Linked DNA regions of Homo sapiens. The protein of the gene in region 1 interacts with the protein of each later gene in a pairwise test. Each region holds a gene or a part of one and is shown in the gene's direction. Other genes may lie near its edges. The genes, in order: CCDC136, CEP57L1, TXLNA and TCEA2.

Region 1 (6,691 bases):
GCCTAGATCAAGTGGGAAGTGGGGTCTTGGGCTCAGATAACTCCGAGTTAATGGGTGGCCCTGCCAAGGATGGATATCTCCAGGAGTGGAGGCCTCGCGCTCTAAGGCACAACCCTTCGGGGAGGTGGAGATGCAGAAGTGGGAGATGAGAGCAGTCTGTCTGCACGAAATCATGGGCTCAGCCCCGTTTGCTGTGGAACCACCTCACAATGACCACCTTTTCTGGGAACCAGCGTGGGGTCTCTGGAGTCCTTTCATTTACGTAGTAGCCTTTGTTACCTTCCTTATGTCGGGAGTGTTCCCTCATCCCTCTTTTGGCACTGCAGGAAGGACATTGACAGTGTGAAGTCTACTTCAGGCCATTTCTGTCGGTCTGGGCAAGTCACTCAGTCCAGTTTTCCTATGGTGCCCTGTTAGGTTTAACCTTTGTTGTTGCTGTTAGGGGTGTGTCAGGGGATAATCTCTTCTTTGTAGGCTCATGTTGCCCCCTGGATTCTGTATATCACAGGACATGAAGGTGGGGCCTGGAAGTGATCAAGAGTGATAGTGAAAATATTTCACATCTGTACAGTAGGAGCATAGACTAGTCCAAGGAGACCATCCCTAGCCTTAACCCTTCAGTTGCTAGATCATTGAGAGGTTGGGGTGGAGGTATCCTGGGATATATATGCCAGAATGCCAGAGGTAACTTACCAACAATATAGAAGTACTTCCATATTTTAATAACTGGTACGTCTCTGCAGGTATGTAGCAACTGAATTCTTGCCCTGGACTTAACTCAGGGCTCAGAGTCCCTACAGAGTTAGAGTATTTCCTGTGTAAGTCCTCAGCTTACATTACAGGTTCTTTCTGTTCTAAACAGAGGTAAAGAAAAAAAGCCTCTTGTGGTGGGATTATCCAGTCAACTCTGAGGATATCTGGAATTTCCAGCAATTTGGTCTTCAGCACTGGCTAAGGATCCAGTGTGCAGTGCTCTGCTTACCTTGTGCCAGGGGACCATTACCTAAGATGTGGAAAGTCGGAACCACTGCAGCCCCTCCCACTATCATGTTTCCTTGAGCTCATCATATTCCACCACGTGCTGGTTCAGAGCCTCACAGATGTCTTTACCTTCGGTGCCACATTTCTAAAGCTAGACCTGATTTTTCTACTTCAAATATATTCTATGTTTCTATATATGGAGAGATCCCTTTGCCCCGTGGGTCCTGCGTCTTTTGCAGGCAGCTCTAGGGCATGTGTATTACCACCTTGCAAAATCGGTTTCTCTCTGGAAGATTGTTGCAGTGAAAGAACTAGCCCTTCTCCATTGTCAGTTTGTTTCGGTGCATGTTGTCTTACAATGATATCATTAGATTCCTAGGGGATCTAAGGGACCAGAGCCCAAAATACTAAGAAACTTAATGGAAAGCAGGCTAGAACAAAGGGACAGGTGACCTGGTAGAAGACTGGCTCTTCCTAGAGTGACCTAGGAAAAGTCACAAGAAAGGTCTAGATGCAGATACCTCCTGCTTGACAGGATATGAGAGGTATGTGACGAGACAGAAAGAAAACTGGACTCACCGCCTGACTTGGACCTAGCTGCTGCTTAACCCATTCAATTTTGCAATTCCTGCAGACTGCCGGTGGAAAGAACCAAGGCCCAGGCAGCAGAAAAGACATGCAACTGCTCTAGCTTACCTGTTTTTTAACCTCTTGATTCCTTTCTCTTTTCCCTTTGTTTTCTCATCTTCATTATCTGTTGGATCCATGCGTTTATGTCTCACATCTCCTGGTCTCTCCTCGTGCTTCTTTCTCATTTTGGTGTGTTGCAGTCATCCCCTACCCCCAATCCCCCCATCTTCTCCTTGCCTCTTGTAGGCCTGGTGGTCATCTCGGCTTTGCTCTGGTGCTGGTGGGCTGAGACGTCGTCCTAATGCAGGTACTGGTATTGCTTCCTCTCCTTCTGAGGGATAGAGGGAGGGTGCAGGTTGCCCTGGCCTCTCCTCTTTCCCTTTTCTCCCAGCTGCTTGCTTCTTGCTTGTGCCATTTTATAATAGGTGATGCTCAGGTCTGAGTTTTAGTTCTGACTTTTCCTTGGGCTACTGCAAAGCCTCTGACATCTCTGAGCATGTCTTCGTAATGCATAGGAGGTTGGAATGCTTGCCAGAGACATGGTTTGTTTCAATCCTTGGCTGGGAAAAACTTGGATAAGCCCAGCTTGGTTGCTGCTGTCAAAGCTGCCTCACTACTTCTTTATCCCCGCTCATCCTCTGTGTGATGGCTAGCCTGACCACTTCTGATGAGCTGATATTTGCAAGGCTGGCCTGGACTCTCTTTGTCTTGGTTTAACTCCGGAGCCAAGTTCTCACTACTGTTGCTACCCAAGATGGCAAAATAAGGAATCCCTCTTCTGTTGGGAGAGAGAGGAGCTCTGAAGAGCTCTGATCCTCATGATCCTCCCAGGGGCATTGGTAGGAGGGCAACCTAAGCTGGTCCATCAAGCTTGGTGAAATGGAACCGAACCCCTACTGTATTCTGCTCTTTCTACTGAACAGTTCTCTGCTTCTGGACTTCCAGTCTCCGGAAAAGTCAGAACAGAATGCCGGGAAATTTTATTAGTTATCTATTTATCTATTTTGTGGGCCAGATTCCATGGTAATTGGCTTCCCCAGCTAGGTTTTCTGGAGAGAATGAGGTATTAGTGAAAAGTTTCTACTAGCCAGAGATGTGTGTTCTCAGGAAATCAAGACTGATATATTCTGGCCACTTTCCTGTCAGCTCCCACACATGTAATGTACACTGTCAACAGGATACCAAATTCAGGAGGCAGAATGTGGTCTTACGGCCTAAGGTAGAAGCCTGGGGTTCCACCTGCCTTCTGGAACCCATAAGGTATTCTCTCTAGTCCTGCATTGGCTCCTCTCTCATGCTTTCCCTGCCTCCCCCTCCACTCCCCTCTCTTCTCACATTCCTGTGAACGGAATGTAGCTTAATGCACAGGGTGGCAACTGGAGGATTTGTTGGTGGCACTTCTCTCCATTTCCTTTTCTGTCCTTCCTCCTGCTCCCTCCCCAGCTTTCCTGTTACTCATCTTCAAGCCTCCACTTTTCTTCTTGACTTTAGGTATTCCCTTTACTCCCTGGTCCACAACTGCTTTAGTGACGGGGCCCCTCTCTATGACTGTTTCTCCCCTGTCACCCCCCAGAAGTCTTAAGGCACTACGGGTGAAACCCAAAGAGTTCAGCCACAGCCTTCCACTACCTCAGACCCAGCCCGGCCCAATCAGAGGGAGAGGAAGAACTGCTGGTGAAGGGTTCTCCTGGTGGGGCCTGTTATCCCCAGAGCTCCAGGAGGCCCCAACATGCACCTGTGCAGCCAGGACCTGAGGGAGCACAGTGTGGTAGAAAGCGTGGCTGCCAGGCGGTCAGAAGAACTTGGTTGAGTCTGTCTCTACTGACAGGCGTTGTCCCAGGGAGCAAAATGCACACTCTGAGCTCTAGTTTCTTCAAATGTAAGCAAAGGATGATCGAACCTCTGCCCTCCTCACAGGTTTTTGTCAGGACCAGATGGGTTGAAGTAGATGAAAGTATTCTATAAATTATAAAATACCCCATCATTAATAAAAAGAGCACGCACTTACAAAATGCAGTCTTATGTGTCAGGCACTGTTCTAATCACTTACGTATATTAACTGATTTAATCCTTGCAACAACCCCATGAAGAAGCTACTCCTATTTTTTTTTATATATGATTAAACTAAGGCATAGAGAAGTTAAGTAAAACAGCCAGGAAGCTGCGAGTCAGATTATAAGGACTCAATATTAGCAACAAATAAGATTCCAGTCTTGCTTCCCTTTATTGTCTCTCCTCATTTTGAGCAGTTTCTCTTCATTGGTCCCAAGTAGGAAGACACCATACTTGTGTTTAGGCAACCTCAGATCACATTAGCTCTTTAGGTAACTAATATATTATTTATTTATTTCATGTATTTTTTATAAGCCCCTCTGCAGATTGTGTATGCTAAGCGTCCTCTCCCCATTCTGTACCTGCATTTGATTTTGAGGCTTCAAAGGCAGAATTTTCCATTCTTCCCTATTATAGTTCATTGTTCTTACCTTATAAGGTTTTGTGTGTATGTGTTTTTAATCTTGACCCTGTGGTTTTAAAATATTCACTTCCTCTGCCACCTTCACATCATCTACAGGGGTGGCAAGCCCTCCTTCCCTGTCTTCATCTACAGAGGACAGAGTGAGGACAGAGCCTCTAGAGTGTCGTCTCTTGGGGTTCTTTTATTCAGCTCATTGGTCACTTACCTGCCATTCAACAAACTGTACTGTCATCCTACCCTTATTTCTGCATATTATCTGCAAAGATCATAGAAAATTCTGTCAAACAACTCAACGTCCAAAAACATGATTCCGGTGATTTGTCACTTAGGTCACCTAGTTTAAAAGGAGAGTTTGACACGACTTCCCCTTTGGGACACCCACACCAGCCCTTTCCCCATCCCATGTAGAAGCTTGCCTTTGCCCAGTGTGAGGTGCACGGGTCACATTTAAGGATTTCAGCTCCTCCCTCCTTTAAGAACACCAGACTAACATTCTTAGCAATGCACATTAGGATAGAGGCATCTGAGCATATAAATATTTTTTTCTAGCTAGCTCCCTTCTTAGTTTTTGTTTTTGGTTTTAGAGACAGGGTCTCGCTCTGTCACCGAGGCTAGAGTGCAGCGGCATGATCATGGCTCACTGTAACTTTGAACTCCCGGTCTCAAGCGATCCTCCTCCCTCAGCCTCCGGATCTCTTGGTTTTCTTACATGAGTTACTCTGTATATCCACCTGTAACATTGCTTGGCTTTCCATTTCATACCTTCTGTTGTTCTTAGTAGCTATTTCTATAAGCTCAGGAGATTTTCTTTGCTCTTTAGCAGGCTTAAAGTCCTCTTTTTAGATCAATTATCATCTGAGAAAATGTGTTCTTAGCATTAATGGGCTATATTCCATTTTTACTTGAAACCATCCTTCTGTTACCTATGCCATAGCTTATGACTCAAAATCCAAATTCTACCTTTCAGTTAGTAGAGTAAAAAAGTAATAAAAATAAAACCTATTTCCCCAAGTATGTATTTTCTTGTCTAAGATTTTCATATTACCTAATGGATGCTTTTTGGATATCTTCGATGGTGCCACTTGTCCCATGAATCAGCAGGGTTCCCTAGTGGCCGGCAGTGTCTGGAAGCCTCAGCATACTCTAGCACATGCACCAGGAAGTCAGTCAACATACCTGGTGATTAGGAGTGTTCTAATGACCTAGGCCCAGTGACAGGTTTCCTTAAATTTCCTTGAACCAATGTCATTCTCTGTCAAAGTTTGTCTGCCTAAGAACCTCCTACTTACCTGCACTCCGTGGTGCACTTTCTTCATTTCCCCTCAGCCTTATTCCCCCTTCCCCATCCTCTTGACTCTGAGTTCACTTCACTGCAGTGAAACTAATGAGGTGCTGCTGCTTTTCTCAAAGCCCCAGATTTCCCCTCCTCTTTCTTGCCATGGCATCCAGTCCTTTCTCATTGCAACCACTTGGAAGTCTGGCCCCTGAGCCTGCTTCTTCACATGGGAGCTAGTATTCTCAGCCCATGGGGAGAAACGGAGGCCTGAATACAGGCGGTCACCTAAGGTGGTGCGTACAGTGTTGGGCCACATGTCTAGTGGTGCCAGGACTGAGAGATCACTTACCTCCACCGGTTACCCAGGAGGTAACAGAGACTGATCCACAATGTTCCTGAGGTGTCTTGGGCACCCATAGGCAGGTGACTTCTGGCTTAGGGCAGGGTTCAGGAGGCTGGGCACTCACAGTTTCTCTTTGGTCCCCACAGAACATGTTTGGGTTGTGGAAGCCTATGGTATTCTTGGCTATTGCAGCTGTGGCTCTGTATGTGTTACCCAACATGCGACAGCAGGAGTCAGAGTTCTGCCTCATGGAGTGATGGCAGACCTTGGCCAGCGCGAGGGCAGATCCCCAGTGGCCACCACCCTCAGCTTTGGGCAGGACACACTGTGCCAGAACCCTCCCCATATGTTCCATGTGTCCCCATCTCCTCAGCCTCAGTCACCCAGGCTGAAAAGGCTTGTGGGGAGCGGCTGACTTCCATCTCCTGCCTTGTGTAAGAACCTGAGTTCCTTGTAATTAAATATCAACTGAATTACATGAGACTGTGGATTTTTATTTGCTAAATGCCTCACAACACAACCAGAACAGAGCAGTCCCCCTTTAACCAAGTACCTCACATAAGGGTCTGACTCCTAAATGCGGCTTCTCACCTTGCAGATGGCCTCAGAAATGAGGCTAGCCCCTTGTGCTGTCGACTGACTCACAGAGGGGTTAGTCTGTGCTTATTAACCCCATCCTGAGGTGCTCTCCTGAGCATGGAGAAATGGAGTGACTGAGGGCTGGGGAGACCTCCCCTAAGGTTCTGTGCCCACACCTATCTACATGAGAAGGCCGCCCTAAGAAGATCCACGTGTGTGCCTTCGTGACTTAGCCTTTGTGACTTCTCAAGGGATTCGCCCTCAGAGATGACTTTAATCAGCCAGGGTCCTGGCAGTAAACAGGTGGCACACTCAAAGCTTTACATGAAGAGAGTTTAATGAAGAGACTATGTACCAAAGGCAGAGTTAGGAGAAGCAACAAAAAATAGTGAAGTACCAGGCACTA
Region 2 (6,440 bases), on another chromosome or scaffold:
CAGCCTCCTCATTGGTTGGATCCAGTCAGTGTTTTTCATAGTACATACAGTCATACCGGTGGATTGTCAAATCAATTTAGCGGGTCACTACCAGCATTTTTTTTTTTTTTTTTTTTTTGAGATTGGAGTCTCGCTCCTTCACCCAGGCTGGAGTGCAATGGTACAATCTCGTCTCACTGCAACCTCCACCTCCCAGGTTCAAGCAATTCTCCTGCCTCAGCCTCCCAAGTAGCTGGGATTATAGGTGTGCACCACCATGCCCTGCTAATTTTTTGTATTTTAGTAGAGATGGGGTTTCACTGTATTGCCCAGGCTGGTCACGAACTCCTGAGCTCAGGCAATCTGCCCGCCTCAGTGTCCCAAAGTGCTGGGATTACAGGCGTGAGCCACCATGCCTGGCCAGCATTTTTTAAATGATATAAAATAGTATTGAAAATATCAGAATGTGGCCAGGTGCGATGGCTCACGCCTGTAAAATCTTAACACTTTAGGAGGCCGAGGCGGGCAGATTGCCTGAGCTCAGGAGTTCAAGACCACCCTGGGCGACATGGTGAAATCCCATCTCTACTAAAAATACAAAAATTAGCCGGGCATGGTGGTATGTGCCTGTAATCCCGGGTACTCGGGAGGCTAAGGCCAGAGGATTGCTTGAACCAGGGAGGCGGAGGTTGCAGTAAGCTGAGATTGTGCCACTGCACTCTAGCCTGAGCAGCAGAGTGAGGCTCCATCAGCAAAAAAAAAAAAAAAAAAAAAGATCAGAGTGCATCACACATAATTAAGGTAGCTTATGTTTTGTGAAACTTTGTGAGTACGGGTTGTCATTTTTAATGTAGCCCTAAATGTTTTTTAGGGAAGAAAAAGTTGGCTTTTAATAAGTATTCAGTGAGAATGAATTTGAAGGGTGTGGAGAAAAGTGGAATAGCCAATTTAAAATAGGAATACTCCCAAGTCCCCTGTTATGGATGTGCCAATCTATTGTTTATCCCAGAAATATTGTTTCATGTGTTTTACAGATAACAAGTCTCATTTTAATCAATACTGTTGCATTTCCTGGTCTATAGAATACAATTTTCAAACACTAGCCAACTTACCTTAGAGAAATACTGGTTTTCTAATGTGGGCAAATAAATACATTCAGTATGAATCCCTTAACAAAATGACCTCATTATGCTACCTCTTGGTAAAATCTAACCAAGCATGAGTCTTATGATTAAGAAAGAAATTTGCTCTGTAGGTGCTTCAGACAGTTTTACAACCAATAAGAATGTGAGATTTGTCGGAGAAAAACTATCTGCATGTCTCCAATCTGAAGAGAGCAAAGATCTGTTATTTGACAAACCCTATTTTTCCGAGCATCAACAGTCAGTGGCACCATGAAAATTAAAAACCTGATAATACCACCAATGTAGTACTCTTTAAAAACATGTCATCTTACTCAGCAATCAACCTGATTGAATATTTTAAAATGAATAAGTGGATAAATATCTTACCTGAAAGATAGCTTCATTAAATAAACTAACTCCTGAGAGGATTTCTTTGGCCTTTAATATCCTATTTAATAGATTTCTTATAACCATATCAGCAAAGCCACTCTGCTCTGGACAATGGTCAGAAGGTAGGAAGAAGTGTTATAGGGTAATGAGCAATAATAAGGCCACCAAATATAATCCCATTGTAATGGGATTCTACCCACTTGTAGAAGTTTATTCACCACTACAAATTACTAAAGTTAACCTAAACAATTAAAGAAAGAAATCTTAGTCTTTAAGAACAGAGGATTGTAAAGTGAGCCAGACCTTCCAATCAGCTAAAATAATGTAAAATAATGTACTTTTCAACCTGACTTGGCTTAATGTAGTTAAGTAAATTTTAGGATAGGTTCTAAAAAACCTTGAGAGGCATTTTGTTGTTGTTGTTGTTGTTGTTAGTTTGCCTTAAAGTTAAATGTACATTGACCTTTGGTATTTCTTAGAAAAACCTGTTACTGAACCTAGTACAGAATGTGAATCATTTCATGCCTGAAATACAAGATTGATGTTTACAGGGCAATTGTCCAGAATCTTGCTGAATTGGAAAGTATTTCACTCTTCATCACTGTAGATCCGTTTAACTTTACAAATGTGTTATTTAAAACATAAACCATTTTGGTGCACAGGAAACCCACTTAAAATTAAATTTTAAAAAGCTCTCGAGAAGTCTGTGGAACATTTATGGTTTTATAACTTACAATTTCTAGCAAAAGTATCTTTAATATCTTACAAAATATTTTCAGAGATAGCTTATCCAAAATATGTAATACATGTGAGAGAATAGCACTGTTGAAATGCTTGAACACATAAAAAGCATTATTGCCTTCATTTTCCCTGAAATGAACCAAGCTACCAATTTAAAGCTGGGAAAGTCAGTACCAGAGTTAAAAACAAGTTACTTTAAAGATATCTGCTTTTACTTTAATCTAAAAAATAATTGATTTTTTAAAAAACTTATTCTATTTTATGTATATAACTTCTCCTTTATAAGCTTAGAAAAATTTATATCAGTATTACATTCTTGATTCTCTCAAGGTATGATTTAAATGGTGGACACTTAAGCCAAAATTTCAAACAGGTTCTTTTTTCTTTGTTCTTTTACAGAATGGCTCTCAAGTCGAAAGAGGGCTGTGCCTTTGGTGTTTGGGTATGATATATTTGCCTGTGATTTCTCATTCTCAGAGCATTCCCATAAATAATGCCACAAAGTAGAGTTTGATTTTTTTTTTTTTGAGACGGAGTTTCGCTCTTGTTGCCCAAGCTGGAGTGCAATGGCGCGATCTCAGCTCACTGCAACCTCCGCCTCCCAGGTTCAAGCGATTCTTCTGCCTCAGCCTCCCAAGTAGCTGGGATTACAGGCATGCGTCACCACACCCGGCTGTTTTTTTTTTTCGCATTTTTAATAGAAACGGGGTTTCACCGTGTTAGCCAGGCTGGTCTCGAACTCCTGACCTTAGGTGAACTGCCCGCCTCAGCCTCCCAAAGTGCTGGGATTACAGGTGTGAGCCACCGCGCCCTGCCTAGAGTTTGATTCTCTTAAACCGTTCTACTAAAATACTATCAGTTTAAACTACCATCTACAGAAATAAAAAACATAAACCACTAAAAGATTAAAGCATTTAGGAGTTTATATGCAAAGAAGTCTTGCAAGGGAGTACAAGCTTTAGGAGGACAGGCTTATCAAATTAAAAAATGAAAAAACCTACAAAATTACCAAAGTCACCAAGTTTAGTTATTCTTTTCATGGTGGAAAACAGTTTCCTCAGATAATCATCATATCAGAGGTCATCATGTATCCTTAGATATCAGCATTGCCAAGACCAGGGATATAGTTATTAGTAATTTACAGGAAAGGCTCAAGGTTTCATTTACATGGGAAATGAGAACTAGACAGTGTGGTGACTGTTTTTGTTGTTAACCTTACCTCAGTGTTTTATCTCGGGTGGTCCCCAAGACCACCTTCAGGATCAGTGATTCACTGGAGGGACTCACAGAACTCAGAAAAGCTGTTAAGTTATGGTTATGGTATATTATAGCAAAAGAATATATATTAAAATCAGCAGCTGAAAAAAGGCACATAGGGCAAAGTCTGGGGGACACCAGGCACAAGCTTCCAGTTGTCCTTCACCTGTGAAGTCATGTAGACAGACCATAATTCTCTCAGCAGACAGACCATAATTCTCTCAGCAACAATGTGTGACAACATTCTTGGAGAATTGCTAACCAGGGAAGCTCCACCAAGCCTTGGTGTCCAGATTTTTTCTTGAGGGTTGGTCACGTAGGCATAGCATGACTGATAGCCCATGTGGCTGACCTTCAGTTTTCAGCCCCTCCAAAGATGGAGCTGATACTACATGGCCTAAGGACTTCACCATTAATCACATTGTTAGCTTAGACTACCTGGTATGGCCTAAGGCCCCCAAGTAAATTAAAACATTCATATCAGGCAGGATAGTCCAAGGACTTAGAGGTTATCTTGAATCTGGACACAGGACAAACATTTCTTTGGAATGTGAAAAGTTTACACAATCAAGACTTGCTATGTTGATCCTTTACTGCGGTATTGTTTTTTGTTTTCTGACCCAAAAGTGATGTGCATTGCTTACCTATCATGGCCTCTGGTTAAGGTGTCAGTCTTGCCTCCAAATTTCCTCCTAAAGCATGGAATTGGCCATAAATTTGCTTAGTGATTTTCTGATTTAGTATCATTAGTTTGATGACTAGTTTTATTATGTGAGTGTGATAAAAGGTTACGCTTAGTATACAAAGACCTTCTTATAAGTCTAGTTAATAAAACTAGGGCCATGTGTTACTACAACATAGGAGTTAACTTTGTCTGGAGGCTTTTTCAAGCCCAAGAGGTTGTCATTTCTTTATGTGTAAGATACTGCCCACATACTATACTGAAGTCAGGAACCAAGAACCGGTCAATTTACCTCAGCCAAGTTGCTTGGACTGCTTTGCTTAATAATGGGTTTGCCATATCTACTTTAATGAGATGTGTGGCATGGTGATGGTTACAAAAGTGATTTGTTAATTATTGCCTGGTAGGAAGGAGAACATGTTTTTTTTGAACCTATGCAAATAGCCACATGTCTGTGAAAAGTAAAGGGATACTTTTGTGTAATATTTAACCATGTATACCATTGTTTGTGTACTTTTTAATTGTGTCATTTTCTACAGTATTATTTTTGCATTTTCCTGACACTGTATTACTTACAAGTTATATTAATAATTTTTATTAATTTTTTTCCTGAATCCTAAAAGGTCAGTTGGAACATGAGACCATTTAAAGAATATTATTTCCTTCCAGTTTATTCAAGGGTGGCCTATTGAGAGTTTGAGATAAAGAAGAAAGGAATCTTTCCTTTCCTTCCCCCTCAGCCCGCCCCCTACCTTTCTTTTTTTTTTTTTTTTCTTTTCAGGGTCTTGTTCTGTCACCCAGGCTGGAGTGGAGTGAATGCAATCAAAGCTCACTGCAACCTCAAACTCTTGGGCTTAAGCAGTCCTCCTGCCTCTGCCTCCCAAGTAGCTGGGACTACAGGTGCATGCCACCACACCTGGCTAATTAAAAAAAAAAAAAAATTTTTTTTTTTGAGGAGACGCGGTCTCACTTTGCTGCCCAGGCTGGTCTCAAACTCTGGGCTCAAGCAATCCTTCCACCTCAGCCTCCCAAAGCTCTGGGATTACAGGCATGAGCCACTGTGCCCGGCAGAATTTTTCTGTGTCCATTAGAAATAGAAATCAGTCACATGCTATGATTTCAATATGTCACTCAAAAGCCATGTGTTGGGGCTGAACGTAGTGGCTCACGCCTATAATCCCAGCACTTTGGGAGGCAAAGGAAGGTGGATCACTTGAGGTCAGGAGTTTGAGACCAGCCTCCAACATGGTGAAACCCCGTCTCTACTAAAAAAAAAAAAAAAATTAGCTGGGTGTGGTGGCATGCACCTGTAGTCTCAGCTACTCATCAGGCTGAGGCAGGAGAATCGCTTGAACCCAGGAGACAGAGGGTGCAGTGAGCCGAGATCATGCCATTGCACTCCAGCCTGAGCCATAGAGTGAGTCTTGGTCTCAAAAAAAAAAAAAAACCTTGTGTTGGAAACCATCTCCAATGAAGCAGTGTTAGGAGATAGGGCCTAATGGATATAAATTACAGTGTCTAAGATGGATACTTTACTCTTTTCTTTTGAGAAGGGAGAGAGTATGTTATGCACTGAGAACTTTTCAGATTTCTTGCAGAGGTCATAATGTTCCAGACAAGCTGGCAGCAATCATTCCCATCCCATCACAGATCCAGGCTTATTTGTAGAATGGTTACACAAACCAAGCAAAACCTTCTGTAAAGTTTCTACCCTTTGCTCTAAAGTTACATAAAAACAATTTCCAAGTTTGTTCACTGTGTATATTTTGTTCTTTTTCATGGTAGATTTGTCTGTTGGAGTTAGATATCCCTAAATAGTGTGTTCAAATGATGTTTTTTTCTGACTGTTCAATCTCCAGCATATTTCTGAGGGAGAAAGGACATTGACTTTGGAGAAAGAAAGCTGTGTAATTACAAATGGACTATTACAAAGAACTATGCCTTCCTTTTTGAGGAGAAAAAAGATGGTTTTTAAAAATTAATACGCAGGCTGGGCGTGGTAGCTCACGCCTGTAATCCAAGTCCTTTGGGAGGCTGAGGTGGGAGGATGGCTTGAGCTCAGGAGTTTGAGACCAGCTTTGGCAACATAGTGAGACCTCATCTCTACAAAAAAAATTTAAAAATTAGCCAGGCATAGTGATGCATGCCTGTAGTTTCAGCTACTTGGGAGGCTGAGATGGGAGGATTGCTTGAGCCCCAGAGATGGAGGCCGTGTGAACCATGATCATGCCACTGCACTCCAACCTGGGAGACAGAGCAAGACCCTA
Region 3 (7,028 bases), on another chromosome or scaffold:
AAAAAAAAAGAATCTAGAATCTAAGTCGAGTGTCATTATATCCATGTTTTATTCCTATTCCCTTTTCCCCTTATGTATCCTCTTACTTTAAAGAGGAACTTTAAAAAATCTTAGGGACGACTAGGCAGAGTGGCTCACACCTGTAACTCCAGCACTTTGGGAGGCCAAGGCAGGCAGATTATGAGGTCAGGAGTTCGAGACCAGCCTGGCCAACATGGTGAAACCCCAGTTCTACTAAAGATACAAAAAATCAGCCGGGCGTGGTGGCACGTGCCTATAATCCCAGATACTCGGGAGGCTGAGGCAGGAGAATCACTTGAACCCGTGAGGCAGAGTTTTCAGTGAGCTGAGATCATGCCATTGCACTCCAGCCTGGGTGACAGGGTGAGACTCCATCTCAAAAAAAGAAAAAGGAAAAAATCTTAACGTCACATACATGGAAAGTATCATCTTCTTCACCCCCCACCCCCAACTGAGATGGAGTCTTGCTCTGTCACCCAAGCTGGAGTGCACTGGCGCGATCTCAGCTCCCTGCAAGCTCCGCCTCCCGGGTTCACACCATTCTCCTGCCTCAGCCTCCCGAGTAGCTGGGACTACAGGCGCCTGCCACCATGCCCGGCTAATTTTTGTATTTTTTTAGTAGTGACAGGGTTTCACTGTGTTAGCCAGGATAGTCTCGATCTCCTGACCTCATGATCCGCCCACCTGGGCCTCCCAAAGTGCTGGGATTACAGGCGTGGGCCACCGTACCCTGCCTTTTTTTTTTTTTTTTTTTTTTGAGATGGAGCCTCGCTCTGTCCCTAGGTTGGAGTGCAGTGGCGCGATCTCGGCTCACTGCAAGCTCCACCTCCTGGGTTCACGCCATTCTCCTGCCTCAGCCTCCCGAGTAGCTGGGACTACAGGCTCCTGCTACCATGCCCGGCTAATTTTTTTGTATTTTTTTTAGTAGAGACGGGGTTTCACTGTGTTAGCCAGGATGGTTTTGATCTCCTGACCTCGTGATCCGCCCGCCTCAGCCTCCCAAAGTGCTGGGATTACAGGCGTAAGCCACTGTACCCTGCCTTTTTTTTTTAATTAATTAATTTTTTTAGACAGAGTCTCGCTCTGTCACCAAGCTGGAGTGCAGTGGCGCGATCTGGGCTCACTGCAACCTCCGCCTCCTGGGTTCAAGCGATTCTCCTACCTCAGCCTCCGGAGTAACTGGGACTACAGGCGCGTGCCACCACACCAAGCTAATTTTTTTGTGTATGTCTTTAGTAGAGATGGGGTTTCACCATGTTAGGATGGTCTCGATCTCTTGACCTCGTGATCCGCCTGCCTCGGCCTCCCAAAGTGCTGGGATTACAGGCATGAGCCACCTTGCCTGGCCGAAAGTATCTTCATTTTAAAGTTCACTGTTTGGCTACTCTGTTGACAAGAGTTTAGTATTTCTCAAGGAGGCTAAGATACCTATTCCTTTTTGGATCCTACCTCTATCAGGAGGGTGGGCCTTCCTTGCATTGAAACAGTATGAAACAGTAGCCCTGAATTCATAAGTGGGACACCTTTCTTCTATTGGTAGAGCAGGCAGTTTTTTTCTCCTGCCAATGGTGCCTACTAAGGAGATTTCACTAGGGTACAGTCGTTCATTTGATAAGCATTTGTTGAGCATATCCTCTGTGATGGTACTATGGACAGTACTGGGGCTATAGTGAGGGCAGGATTGAGTTGGTCCTTATGGCAAGGAAGGCAGCTAATCAACAAGCAAAATATAAAGTATGATGGGGAGGGCTGTCTTCAGCACTCATGAGTGTGAGCCCAGGCCTGGAGGGGACACCTGGAGAAGAGGGTGCATGTCTTTGCTCCTGTGCTTTTCAGGGAAGGAGATCACGTTGCTGATGCAGACATTGAATACTCTGAGTACCCCAGAGGAGAAGCTGGCTGCTCTGTGCAAGAAGTATGCTGAACTGGTCAGTTCCCCCCTCCGCGGGCACCTTCCCTGCGTTGGGAAAATCAGCATGCCACCTGGTGTAAGGTTGGGGGTGCAGAGTCAAGTAGGTGGCTTAATTCCTGTTCAGCTTTTCTCTGAACTATCTGTTAAATGGGGAATCACTTCCAGCCAGCCTCTTCAGGGCTGTGCAGCAAGAGGAGAAACTGCATATTCCTTGAAAGAAATTTCTCAAAGAATGATTCCAAGGTGGTAGAGCCCTTGTTCCTGGCCTGAGTCCAAGACACCTTGTGATCTTGATGCTTCTTCCTCAAATACAGATGCATAGAGCCATTATCACAGTTAATAAAACTAACACTAGTCACTTGATACTTTTTCCTTTTACTCCAGAGCAGTCTTCTTGTCACTGCCTCCTCATATTCCCCATGACATTGACTTTTAACAGAAACTAGACTAGCTGTCTTGTAGGATGCCCCCTTCTAGCTTTGTCATCTCTGTGGTATCATTTTACTTCTTTACCTCCTGGTACATGTAAGTGAAGTAGAAGTTAGCTCTAAAGCTTGATCCAATTCAGCTTCAACTTTTTGACAAGAATTCTTCATAAGTACTTCATGTTCCATCACAATAAATGCAAAGCATGCTCTTCCCACTTTGTTGTAACATTGTTCAGTGGGTTGGGGGTGGGGCAGCCAGATTCTTCCATCATCAGGTCCCTTGTCAGAATTTGAACTAACAGATTTATCCATTGATGGTCACAGCCTGTGTATGTATGTATGTATGTATGTATGTATGTATTTATTTATTTATTTATTTTTTGAGACGGGGTCTTGCTCTGTCGCCCAGGCTGGGGTGCAGTGGCACGATCTCGGCTCGCTGCAAGCTCCGCCTTCTGGGTTCATGCCATTCTCCTGCCTCAGCCTCCCGAGTAGCTGGGTCTACAGGCGCCCGCCACCATGCTAGGCTATTTTTTTTTTTTTTTTTTTTTTTAGTAGAGACGGGGTTTCACCGTGTTAGCCAGGATGGTCTCGATCTCTTGACCTCGTGATCCGCCCGCCTCGGCCTCCCAAAGTGCTGGGATTACAGGCTTGAGCCACCACGCCTGGCCTATTTATTTATTTATTCAGAGTCAGAGTCTCGCTCTGTCACCAGGCTGGAGTGCAGTGGCGCGATCTCGGCTCATTGCAACCTCCACCTCCCAGGTTCAAGCGAGTCTCCTGCCTCAGCCTCCCGAGTAGCTGGGATTACAGGTGCATGTCACCATGCCTGGCTAAATTTTGTATGTTTTAGTAGAGACAGAGTTTCAGTATGTTGGCCAGGATGGTCTTGATCTCTTGGCCTCGTGATCCGCCCGTCTCAGCCTCCCAAAGTGCTGGGATTACAGGTGTGAGCCACTGTGCCTGGCCTCTAAGTATTTATTTTAAAATTAATTCATTCCACACACATTTATTAATATTTTCCTGTAAGGAACTTTACTCATCTTTAAAATGGGGAATGTCATACCTGCCTAATGACATTCTTGTAAGGATTAAATAAAAGGTATAAGGAAGATAAGCACCCTTTTGGAGTGATCCAGCCAGGGGAAAATTGCTGATGCAAGAGAGGAAATGAGTTGCTAGAGTGGTGTTGTGAGTAGAGGAGGGGAGCTGAGGCCTGCCCAAGAAGGGGGCTTGGCTGTGGTAACCACATGGCTAGGTCTGTGTGACTGGAGGAGAGGACGGGGCAGGTGGACTGGTAGATGTGCAGCTTGTGCCCCTGATTCTCTAGTTTCTTCTGTGTTTTGAGATTTGATGAGAACGATGAAATAGTTGTCTGGAAGGAGAGGAGTGTGAATAGCATATGCATTGTATTGGGATTGCTGGTCTTCCTGAAATTGGTGGCCATGAATTTAAAGTGAGACTCTTCAAGTAGGGTTGTTATAGTACTGGTGTAAAGCAGGAAGGTGCTTTACTAGGGTTGCAGTACTACTGGGGAAGGGCCAAGAGAGTTGAGGGTGTAAGAAATCCAAGCCAGGTAATGTAGTTATTTTAAAGGAGAGTGGAAGGATGGTTGAGTCAATGGATTGGAGGTCCTATAGGGTAAGAGACTTTCTGAGGATCACAGATACTGATTGGAATGAGCTAAAAAGATAGGTGATGGTAGTCCTGGACTGGGATGCTGGAAATTGAGATAGTGGGTGTGCTCTCTGGTAGTGACAAAGTCTAGATCTGCGCTGTCCAAGATAAATTCGTCTCTAGCTAATTGACATGTGGCCAGTTTGAATTTGAACATGCTATAAATGTAAGATACACATCAGCTTTTGAAGACTTAAGCAAAAACAAAGAATATAAAACATCTTTTTGTGAGAGAGTGTCTCAGTCACCCAGGCTGGAGTGCAGTGGCGTGATGTCCTGCTTCCAGGTTCAAACGATTCTCCTGCCTCACAGCCTCCTGAGTAACTGAGATTACAGGCGCATGCCACCAAACTGGCTACTTTTTTGTATTTTTTTTTTAGTAGAAACGGTTTCACCATGTTGGCCAGGCTGGTCTTGAACTCCTGACCTCAAGTGATCTGCCTGCCTCAGCCTCCCAAAGTGCTGGGATTACAGGCATGAGCCACCACTCCCGGCCTCACTTTTTTACATTGATTCCGTGTTGAAATTGTAATGTTTTGGATATTAGGTTAAATACATATATTACTAAAATTAATTTCACCTGTTTTTTACTTTTTTAGTGCGGCCAGTAGAATATTTTTAATTACTTATGTGGTTTGCATTATATTTCTGTTGTACAGGCCTGGATAGGGTCATGGGAGGGGAACTGAGCTGGGGAAAGGAGTGGGTTTGTGGAAGAGGTGATGGACTGTGAGGCCAGGGAGTTAGAAGGATTATCTGTTGATACTGAAGTGGCCACAAATGAGAAAAGTAATTGTGTTGGGGAGAGCGCTGATGAACGCAGCGCTAACGTTTTGAAGGAATGCGAGGGAGCGATGGGGGTCTGTCTGTTAATAGGCACAAGGTACGGTAGCAGGTGGTCTCATCCTCGGGCATGAGTGTCCAGCAAGTTGGGGAAATGCAACAGCTTGAAGTGGCTCTAGTGGCCCAGAGTCAGAGCTGGAATAGGAATTGGCATCTGCTGGCTGTGTGGCCCCTGCTTGCCCTAGTGAGTTACCATTTCTCTGTCCCTACGGTGGAGCCTTTGGGGTTATTGTGAGTTCATGGGAGGAGCGTGTAAGCACCGGCACAGCATCAGCCCATGAGAGTGCTCCTGGCCTGAGAGGGTAAGGGTCAGGGCAGCTCAGGAGACCCTAGACCTGCATAGTGATCCCCCCACCAGGAAGGCCCCACAAGATGCTCACCTGCCCTCCCTATCCCTGTCCCCAGCTGGAGGAGCACCGGAATTCACAGAAGCAGATGAAGCTCCTACAGAAAAAGCAGAGCCAGCTGGTGCAAGAGAAGGACCACCTGCGCGGTGAGCACAGCAAGGCCGTCCTGGCCCGCAGCAAGCTTGAGAGCCTATGCCGTGAGCTGCAGCGGCACAACCGCTCCCTCAAGGTAGGCCTGGGCCCCCTGGAACAGGTGACTCTGGTTTCCTTGACTTCCACTTAATGTTTCTTTCATGGGCTTTCCTCTTAAAAAGTAGTGCAGGCTAGGGCCAGGCGCAGTGGCACACATAAGTGATTAAAAATCTTCTGGCCACTAAAAAACAGAAATTAATTTTAGTAATATACTTAACCCAATATCCAAAACATTACAATTTCAACATGAAATCAGTGTAAAAAAGCAAGGCTGGGTGTGGTGGCTCACACCTGTAATCCCAACACTTTGGGAGGCTGAGGTGGATGGATCACTTGAGGCCAGGAGTTTGAGACCAACCTGGTCAACGCAGTGAAACCCCATTCTACTAAAAATACAAAAATTAGCCGAGTGTGCTGGCAAATGCCTATAATCCCAGCTACTCAGGTGGCTCAGGCATGAGAATTGCTTGCACCTGGGAGGCTGAGGTTGCAGTGAGCCGAGATTGCATCACTGCATTACAGCCTGGGCAACAGAGTGAGACTCAGTGTCCAAAAAAAAAAAAAAGTAGTGCAGGCTTGTGGCATAGAAATACACTTTCTCAATAATGCCTTACGTTAAGAGAGTACTGCTTGTAATCATTTGACATGTATTAGATAAGGTGAAGGATAAAGTACTAAGAGAATCCATAATGCACTGGCGTTAGTATTTCTCAATGAAATGACAGTCCCCTGGTAAGCGGAGGCCTGGCTCTGACAAGCAGCTCTTGTCCCAGACGTTGGTCAGTCAGGAACCTGGGTCCTTCCCATGTTCTGCTGCTTCTATGGTGAGGTCAGTCTGTGGTTACACCAAGTTTAAATACAGCCTTTTAACTTTCTTTTTTATATGTAAAATCTTACATGTAGTTTTTAGAATGAAATTATTATACATGTACCATTTCATATCCTGTGCCTTTTTTTCACTTTACATAACATTTTTCCCTATCAGTATGTGTAGGGCTATCTTCTCATTATATGGATATATTATATCAGTGCCCTAGTTAAAGCATTTTGGGGGTTGTTTACAATTTTTCATTATTACATATAGAACTATAGTGAAAATTCTTGTTATATTTATCACTGGTCAGTTATATAGAACTTATCTGTAGGATAAGTCATGGAATTGAAATGGCTAGGTCACAGTATATGCAGATTTTTCATTTTAATAGATTTTGCTGGATTGCCTTCCAGTGAGGGGGCAGTGTGCCTTCCCCATCAAAAGTGTTGAGTGCCTAATTCTGCACAACTTTGCAAACCCTGGGTGTTACTAAATTTTAACAGCTTGGTCTCTGGGGGTACAGAGGGGACAAATGCACATTAATCTGAAATCTGGAAGAATAGGCCTTAGGAGATCCGACTTGCTTCAGAATGGCACTTAGCACTTACATGTGTGCATGTGTGCCTGCATTTTTTCTTCCTTTTTTTTTTTTTGGGGACGGAGTCTTGCTCTGTGGCCCATCGCCCAGGCTGGAGTGCAGTGGCGCGATCATAGCTCACCACAACCTCCGCCTCCCAGGTTCAAATGACTCCTCTGCCTCAGCCTCCCAAGCAGCTGGGACCACAGGTGCACAC
Region 4 (6,924 bases), on another chromosome or scaffold:
CTCGCACTGTTCCCTCCCATCTTGCCCGACCGCCCCCCACCAGCTCCCAGGCCCAGTATGTCTCTGTCCCACCCCATCGTCTCTATAGGCCCTGTCCTGCAGTGGGTTCTGTCCCTCCCTGCAGCTTGGTAAGGTTGTTGAGGCTTCAATACACACTCCAGACCACATCCCTCTCCCTCCCAACTCTGGGACACTCTCTGCACCTCTGAAAAGAAACTCCCAGCCCTTCTTGTGCCTCTCCCTTCCTCTGGGCACCCCTTGTTCCTTATCCATCCTGGCTGGCCTGTGGCCTGTACTTCTGATCTGCACACAGGTATCACAGAGGACAGAGACCCCAGGGCCCCAGCCCCTGGTGGGGGCGGGGAGTGCAAGGGGGCAGTCGTCTTTGTTCTCGACCAGCTCCCAGCTCCCTAGGTAATGCTTTAAGAGTTACCGTGCTAGGGGATCTTTGTGGCTGAAAACATTCAGATGAACCAGATATTTAAAAGCATCCCTCATGCAAAGTCCCTCCACTGGTTGGGCCGGCCTGGGGAGGGTCAAGGCTGGGTCTCTAGTCTGGTTTTCCGGGGGCGTCTGTGTGCACTCCTTCCCCAGAACCTTGCGCTTGTCCATCCCAGGGAGAAATCAGGTGGGGAGCGGCCTCACTGCTGGCTCCTTGATAGTGACTTGCTCCAGAGGTCCGTGCTGATACCCCAGACCCCGCCCCACCAACACTTCAACTGGGACTGCGGCGTATGCACAACTGCACAGCCTCCTCTGGCAGCTCCTTGATGCTTCTGGGACGTTGACCCTCTCTCCTTTGCACCTCCACTCTTAGGAACTTGCAGCTCTCTGGGGTTAGTTCTCCTCTGTGCTGTCTGGGCTGCACCTCCTGCCCAGGAGGGGCCTCTCTGTGCTGCAGCCCTTACCAGCATCTCAGGATCTGCAGTCCTGATACTTGGAGGTCTCCCCCCCACCCCCAGCTTGAGGGCTGGCTTCCTTTCGGTGGTCTTCAAATCAACTCACACTCGGCCGTTGGAGAAGCCTATGTGTCTGGCCAGGCAGGCTCCATGGATGTGGCCAGTGTCTTTGTGGACGGTGGGAACCAGCTTTGAAACCCTGGCCGCCCGGACCTCCGAAGCCAAACTTTCTGGGGTTCCTGCACAAGGGCAGTTCCAGTGTGGCTTCTACAGGACCCTGACCAGCTCCTTGGTCTGGCTGTCAGCCATTGAGACAGTGGTTGAAGGCTGGGTGGCTCTAGCCTCCCCTCGTGCCTCTGATGAGGCTGGACCCTTCAAGTCTTCATATATGCCCAAACCATGGGATTCTGACCACGAGGACTTGCTTGGATGGTCTAGGCTGGAAGCTATGTCCCCAGCTCACTGTGAGGGGCAGAATCAGTCAGTATGGAAACCGTGTTCATCTATTAATAATAATAATAATATAATATCGCGGGGCCTCTGTCTTAGAAAGGCTTTGCTCCTCACAAGGAATTCTATGCTTTTTCCCTATGATTGAGCTTTTTTTTTTTGCGACGAGTCTCACTCTGTTGCCAGGCTGGAGTGCAGTGGCATGATCTCGGCTCACTGCCAGCTCCGCCTCCCGGATTCAAGCGATTCTCCTGCCTCAGCCTCCTGAGTAGTTGGGACTACAGGCGCATGCCGCCATGCCCGGCTAATTTTTTTTTGTTTTTTTGTATTTTAGTAGAGACGGGGTTTCACCCTGTTGCCCAGGCTGGTCTCAAACTCCTGAGCTCAGGCAGTCCACCTCCCAAAGTGCTAGGATTACAAGCATGAGCCACCGCGCCCAGCCTGAGTCTTTTTTTTTTTTTTTTTTTTTTTGGAGACAGTCTCACTCTGTCACCCAGGCTGGAGTGCAGTGGCACAATCTGGGCTCACTGCAACCTCCGCCTCCTGGGTTCAAGTGATTCTCCTGCCTCAGCCTCACAAGTAGCTGGGATTACAGGCATGTGCCACCACGCCCGGCTAATTTTTTTTTTGTTGTTGTTTGTTTTTGAGATGGAGTCTTGCTCTGTTGCCCAGGCTGGAGTGCAGTGGCATGATCGCCGCTCACTGCAAGCTCCGCCTCCTGGGTTCATGCCATTCTTCTGCCTCAGCCTGCGGAGTAGCTGGGACTACAGGCGTCCGCCACCACGCCCGGCTAATTTTTTGTATTTTTAGTAGAGATGGGGTTTCACCGTGTTAGCCAGTATGGTCTCGATCTCCTGACCTCGTGATCCGTCTGCCTTGGCCTCCCAAAGTGCTGGGATTACAGGCATGAGCCACCATGCCCGGTCTAATTTTTGTATTTCTAGCAGAGACAGGGTTTCACCATGTTGGCCAGGCTGGTCTGGAACTCCTGACCTCAGATAATCCGCCCACCTCAGCCTCCCAAAGTGGTGGGATTACAGGGGTGAGCTACTGTGCCCAACCAAGATGAGTCTCTCTCTCTCTTTTTTTTTCTTTTGAGACGGAGTCTCGCTGTTGTTGGCCAGGGCTGGAGTGCAATGGTGCTATCTTGGCTCACTGCAACCTCCGCCTTCCGGGTTCCAGCAATTCTCCTGCCTTAGCCTCCCAAGTAGCTGAGATTACAGGTGCCCGGCACCACACCTGGCTAGTTTTTGTATTCTTTGTAGAGACGGGGTTTCACCATATTGGCCAGGCTGGTCTCGAACTCCTGACCTCAGGTGATCCACCCGCCTGGGCCTCCCAAAGCGCTGGGATTACAGGCATGAGCCACTATTGCCCGGCTAAGATGAGTCTCTTAACTGACCATATTTTCCTTTTCATTTTGGCTGCGGGGAAGCTCAGTTATATGTGATTAGTGCCACAGACAGCCCAAGAAATGCTCAGCCCATTCCACCTGCCACCTGGCCTCATAGTTCGTTGGCCTGAACTTGAATGACTACAGGCTCCTTGATCCACACCCTCCCCCAGGATTGTGCCCTCTCCAGGAAACCACCCAGCATCTGCATTACTGGGGAGCTGCCAGGCAGTGGTGGGGATGCTGGCCCTGCACCTGTCCCCGTCCTCAACCCTCCCTAGGCCTGGGCCATCTCTCTGGCTGCCTGCAGTCTGGCCCTACCTAGGGACCTCCAACAACAATGTCAATGAACACTAATTGTCATGCTCCATCCCCTCTCTGTTCTCAGGCATGTGATGTGAATCAGCTGACATCATCTTGACGGGAGCCCTGTGAGGCGGACACTTAACTCCAGTTTCACAGGTGGGGAGACTGAGACACAGTGGTCAACGTGCAGAGCCCAGAATCTGCTCCCTGGTAGCTGACTTTGCAGGCAGGGGCCTTGCCCACGCAGCCTCGGCAGAGGCCCCCGCACTTCGCGAACCCCAGCAATGGCCCCTTCCAGACGCCACGTCCAGCTACCGCGCGCTCACACCTGCAGGGCCCCACAAGAGGCCTCCCAGTGTGCGCGGGCCTCTTGAAGAAGTAACTCTACTCAGAAGCCCGAATGACCCAAACTGGGCTCTGGGAGGCTGGGGACGGCCTTCTAGGCCAAGTGGGGCGCGCGCAGGGCTCAGCGGGGCCCAAGAGAAGGGCTGAGGGCACTGGGTCCTGAGCCACCCACCGAAGGACGCCGCGGGACAGCAAGGCCCGAAGCAGGAGGAGAGAAGGGAGCAGATTCCTGGGCCTCCTGGGGCCCGGTCGCTCCGGGATGTCTGAGCTCTGGGAGGGGCGTGCCCGGGGCGCCTCCCTCGCGGGGTATTGTGGGATCACGAGTCACTGGCGACGGTGGGTCAGGACTACACTTCCCAGGAGGCTGTGCGCGCCGCGTGGCGCCTGGGAGTTGTGGTCCAGAGCGCGGGCGCGGCGGGCGCGGCAGGCGGGCGCGTGGACTACGCATCCTAGGATGCCGCGCGCGGCCGCGGGGCCGAGGGTTTGAACCGGGGGTCTGTCGTCCGCGGCGGGGCTGCGTCGGCTGCGGCGGGTGTGGGAGGTGGCGACGGCCGGGGCCGGGGTCCTGCCCGGCTGCGGAGGCGGGCGCGACGGGCGCGGGGGTCGCTGCTCCTGAGGCGATGATGGGCAAGGAAGAGGAGATTGCGCGGATCGCCCGGAGGCTGGACAAGATGGTGACCAAGAAGAGCGCGGTGAGGGGCGCGGGCCGCCAGGACCCCGGGAACCCCGCCCCGCCGAGACCCCGTCGAGCCCGCCGACCCCCGTTAGGGCCGGAAGACGACCTGAGGGGCAGGACGAGACCCCTCCCCGGCAGAGACTAACCGGGACGCAGGGGAGACCCCCACCCGTGGCCGAGACCCCTGCCCCGGGCCAGCCCTGCCGTTCACTCCCGCAACCCCGGCAGAGGCCGCGATCAGGCCTGGACCTTGTCCCGGGAGAGCCACCCGCTCTGGACTCAGACCCCTCCCTCGCCCGCAGTCACAGGCTCCGCACCCTTCCCTGTCCCTTAACTCCAGACCCCCAGCCTGGCCCGTCGACTCCTTCCTTGGCCCTGTCCCGCCTCTCGGAGCCCCCGGGGTGTTCGGGCCTCCTCTGCGGGCCGCGCCAGCCCCTTGCCTTCCTCCATCCCGGCCTGGGCATCCTCACAGGCCGAGCCCCGCCCCCCAACTCAGCCCTCTCCCACGCTCCGTCTCTTACAGCGTTTGTCACCCTCCGTCTCCCATAGCATTTGTCGCCGGCAACAGTTTGGAGTCTGAGGTTGGATCCCCTTTTCTTCTGGAGCTTCCGTGCCTCCCCTGCCTCTTCCCAGCCCTTGTCATCCTCCTTCACAGGCCAGCCAGATACCTGTCTTGCCTGTGGGCCCATTTTCTTCCCTGTCTGTCCCCACCCCACAAGAACCAGGTTTCTCTAATAAATTCTCTCCCTTCTTTAGCCAGGACTTAGCCCGCAGCAACTTGGGTTGTGGGTAGTTATGTGGACACCCTCCGAAAAGAGCCGGTGTGCTTATATAAGAGCCAGGAGGTCGGGCAAGCCTCCTCTGGGAGTGTCTGGGCGCTGGAGCCTCTGGCCGGCTCTGTTCACTGCGGCCTGGGCCTCTGTTGTCTTGCGGCCACAGCGAGACTTTGGAGGAGGCTGTGTGTGAGGACTTTGAAGGGGCCAGGTCAGTGGGGGTCCAGTTCCAGCGTCATGACCTTGGCAACCTCTGCACCCTCCCACAGAAGCATCTTTAGAGGATGCTGCCTGCCTCCTGGGGGGTGGGGAGGGGTCTGGCCGCAGGTCATTTGGAGCTCCTGGCTGGCTCAATAAACGTGACCTGTGCTTTCCCACCCAGACTGTGAACTCCTGGGGCAGGGCCAGCTGTGTGTCTGCCAGGCCAGCCCAGGGCGGTGAAGGTGGCTGAGTCATGGGCTTTGGGTGATTTGTGCAGCCACCCCAGGGCTGTGTGACTGCAGTGGGGGTTTGGGGGAAGCTTTTTGGGCTGAGCAGGGTTGAGTCTGGGTTCCTGTGACCAGCGTTCTGGACTGGGGTCTGCCCTGGGAAGGGGTGGGCTCCCACTCATTCCTGCTGGGTGCAGCACCCCCATCATTGCGTTCACACACACCCCGGAAAACTGGTCAGCACAAAGTAGGGGTCTGCGAACCATTCATAGCTGTTTCCAGAGATGACCCGAGAATGGAGTTGTTCCCCTTCTTAAAGGAGACAAAACACAAACGATAAAAGCTGTAGGTGGGAGAAGCAAAGATGGGTCATGGAGCCAGGGGAGGGCTGGGTGGGGCTGGGCAGAACTGATGGGGGGTTTCTGGTGGAAGAACAGCTTGAGTAGAAGCCCCAGGGGAGAATGAGGAGGGGAGGCGGGCGCTGTGCAGTGGGGAGTGGGAGCCAGCAGAGCCTCCTGGGGGTCCCAGTGCCTGAGGTCCCCTCGGGGACCTGGGGGCCAGGTGTGGGGGTTTTTTTGCCTCTGGACCTGAGCCCACTGAGAGCCACGTAAGCAGGTGCAGGGCTTTCAGGGGACAGTGGCCTTGGCTCTGGCTATCACCTCAAGGCTGGACTCTGTACAGCCCAAGAGGCAGGGCCTGCCTGGGAGGGCTCAGGAGGGGCTGCAGCGTGAGCAGACTATGCCACCCGGATTGCTGGGGTTGTGCGGGCGGTAGGTGGGACAAGCCCCTCCCATGGCCTGTGGGTCGTGGGACTCTGATCAGGTCACCTTAGGGCAGAGGGAATGATACACACGTGGAAACACATGCACGTGTTACAGAGGAGATGGGGTGTTGCAGGGCACAGTTGCAGTTTTAAACAGGAGAGGCCTTGCTGAGAAGGTGTTGTTGAAATAAAGCCCGGGAGGGAGGGAGGGAGGGAGGGAGACGTTGTGGGAGGCCGCCCCAGGCGGTGGAGCTGCAGGTGCAGAGGGCCTCGGTGGCGGCTCAGCGCCCTTGGGGAGCACTGAGTTGCCGGGCCTGGTGTGGAAATGTGACCGGTTTGTGCCTGGCCTCGTCAGTGTTGAGGACCTGGAGGAAACGCAGATCTTGGGTGGGGAGACAAGGCGGAGAGAACGAGGTGCATTGGAACAGTCCAGGCGAGGGGTGCTGGCCTGCTTGGGGGCAACTCAGAGGCCTGGAGGATAGATGAGGAGGGGGGCTGTGGGCCTTGTAGGTGTTGGCTGTGGCCGTGCCTGGAGTGGAGGGACCCTTGAAAGTTTGGCCTCAGCTCGGGACACTGATGTTCCCGGGTTGGCCCTTCATGAGAGTTTGGCCTCAGCTCGGGACACTGATGTTCCTGGGTTGGCCCTTCACAGCTGGTGGGCGGGGGGTGCTTTGGGGAGAGGCTGCCCTGCGCATCAGGGCATCAAGACACAGGGGAGTGAATGAACCTGGGGCTGCAGTTTCACCTGGGTGTGGCCCTGGCTGCTGGGGAGGGGCCGTGGCTCTGAAGCCTCATGATTGGCCAGGGGAGCTGGCATTTCTGTTCTGGTTTGGGTCAGTGACCTGAGGTGGTTACAACGAAGTCAGTGAGGTCATTGCCACGGATGTGGGT

Evidence for each region.
Region 2: the proteins of CCDC136 (region 1) and CEP57L1 interact in binary tests that used the Homo sapiens proteins (3 or more experiments, as listed by UniProt).
Region 3: the proteins of CCDC136 (region 1) and TXLNA interact in binary tests that used the Homo sapiens proteins (3 or more experiments, as listed by UniProt).
Region 4: the proteins of CCDC136 (region 1) and TCEA2 interact in binary tests that used the Homo sapiens proteins (3 or more experiments, as listed by UniProt).

Annotation. Positions count from the first base shown.
Region 1 is NC_000007.14:128,815,947-128,822,637, forward strand, and holds the end of CCDC136 (coiled-coil domain-containing protein 136), read left to right. Parts: intron 1-1,811; coding exon 1,812-1,913; 3' UTR 1,914-1,918; intron 1,919-3,184; coding exon of another isoform or gene 3,185-3,365; exon of another isoform or gene 3,366-5,098; intron 5,099-5,852; coding exon of another isoform or gene 5,853-6,144; 3' UTR 6,145-6,184; downstream 6,185-6,691. UniProt on the Homo sapiens protein: May play a role in acrosome formation in spermatogenesis and in fertilization.
Region 2 is NC_000006.12:109,168,495-109,174,934, forward strand, and holds the end of CEP57L1 (centrosomal protein CEP57L1), read left to right. Parts: 3' UTR 1-5,924; downstream 5,925-6,440. UniProt on the Homo sapiens protein: Centrosomal protein which may be required for microtubule attachment to centrosomes.
Region 3 is NC_000001.11:32,182,668-32,189,695, forward strand, and holds part of TXLNA (alpha-taxilin), read left to right. Parts: intron 1-1,857; coding exon 1,858-1,949; intron 1,950-5,286; coding exon 5,287-5,457; intron 5,458-7,028. UniProt on the Homo sapiens protein: May be involved in intracellular vesicle traffic and potentially in calcium-dependent exocytosis in neuroendocrine cells.
Region 4 is NC_000020.11:64,059,300-64,066,223, forward strand, and holds the start of TCEA2 (transcription elongation factor A protein 2), read left to right. Parts: upstream 1-3,898; 5' UTR 3,899-4,013; coding exon 4,014-4,085; exon of another isoform or gene 4,086-5,053; intron 5,054-6,924. UniProt on the Homo sapiens protein: Necessary for efficient RNA polymerase II transcription elongation past template-encoded arresting sites.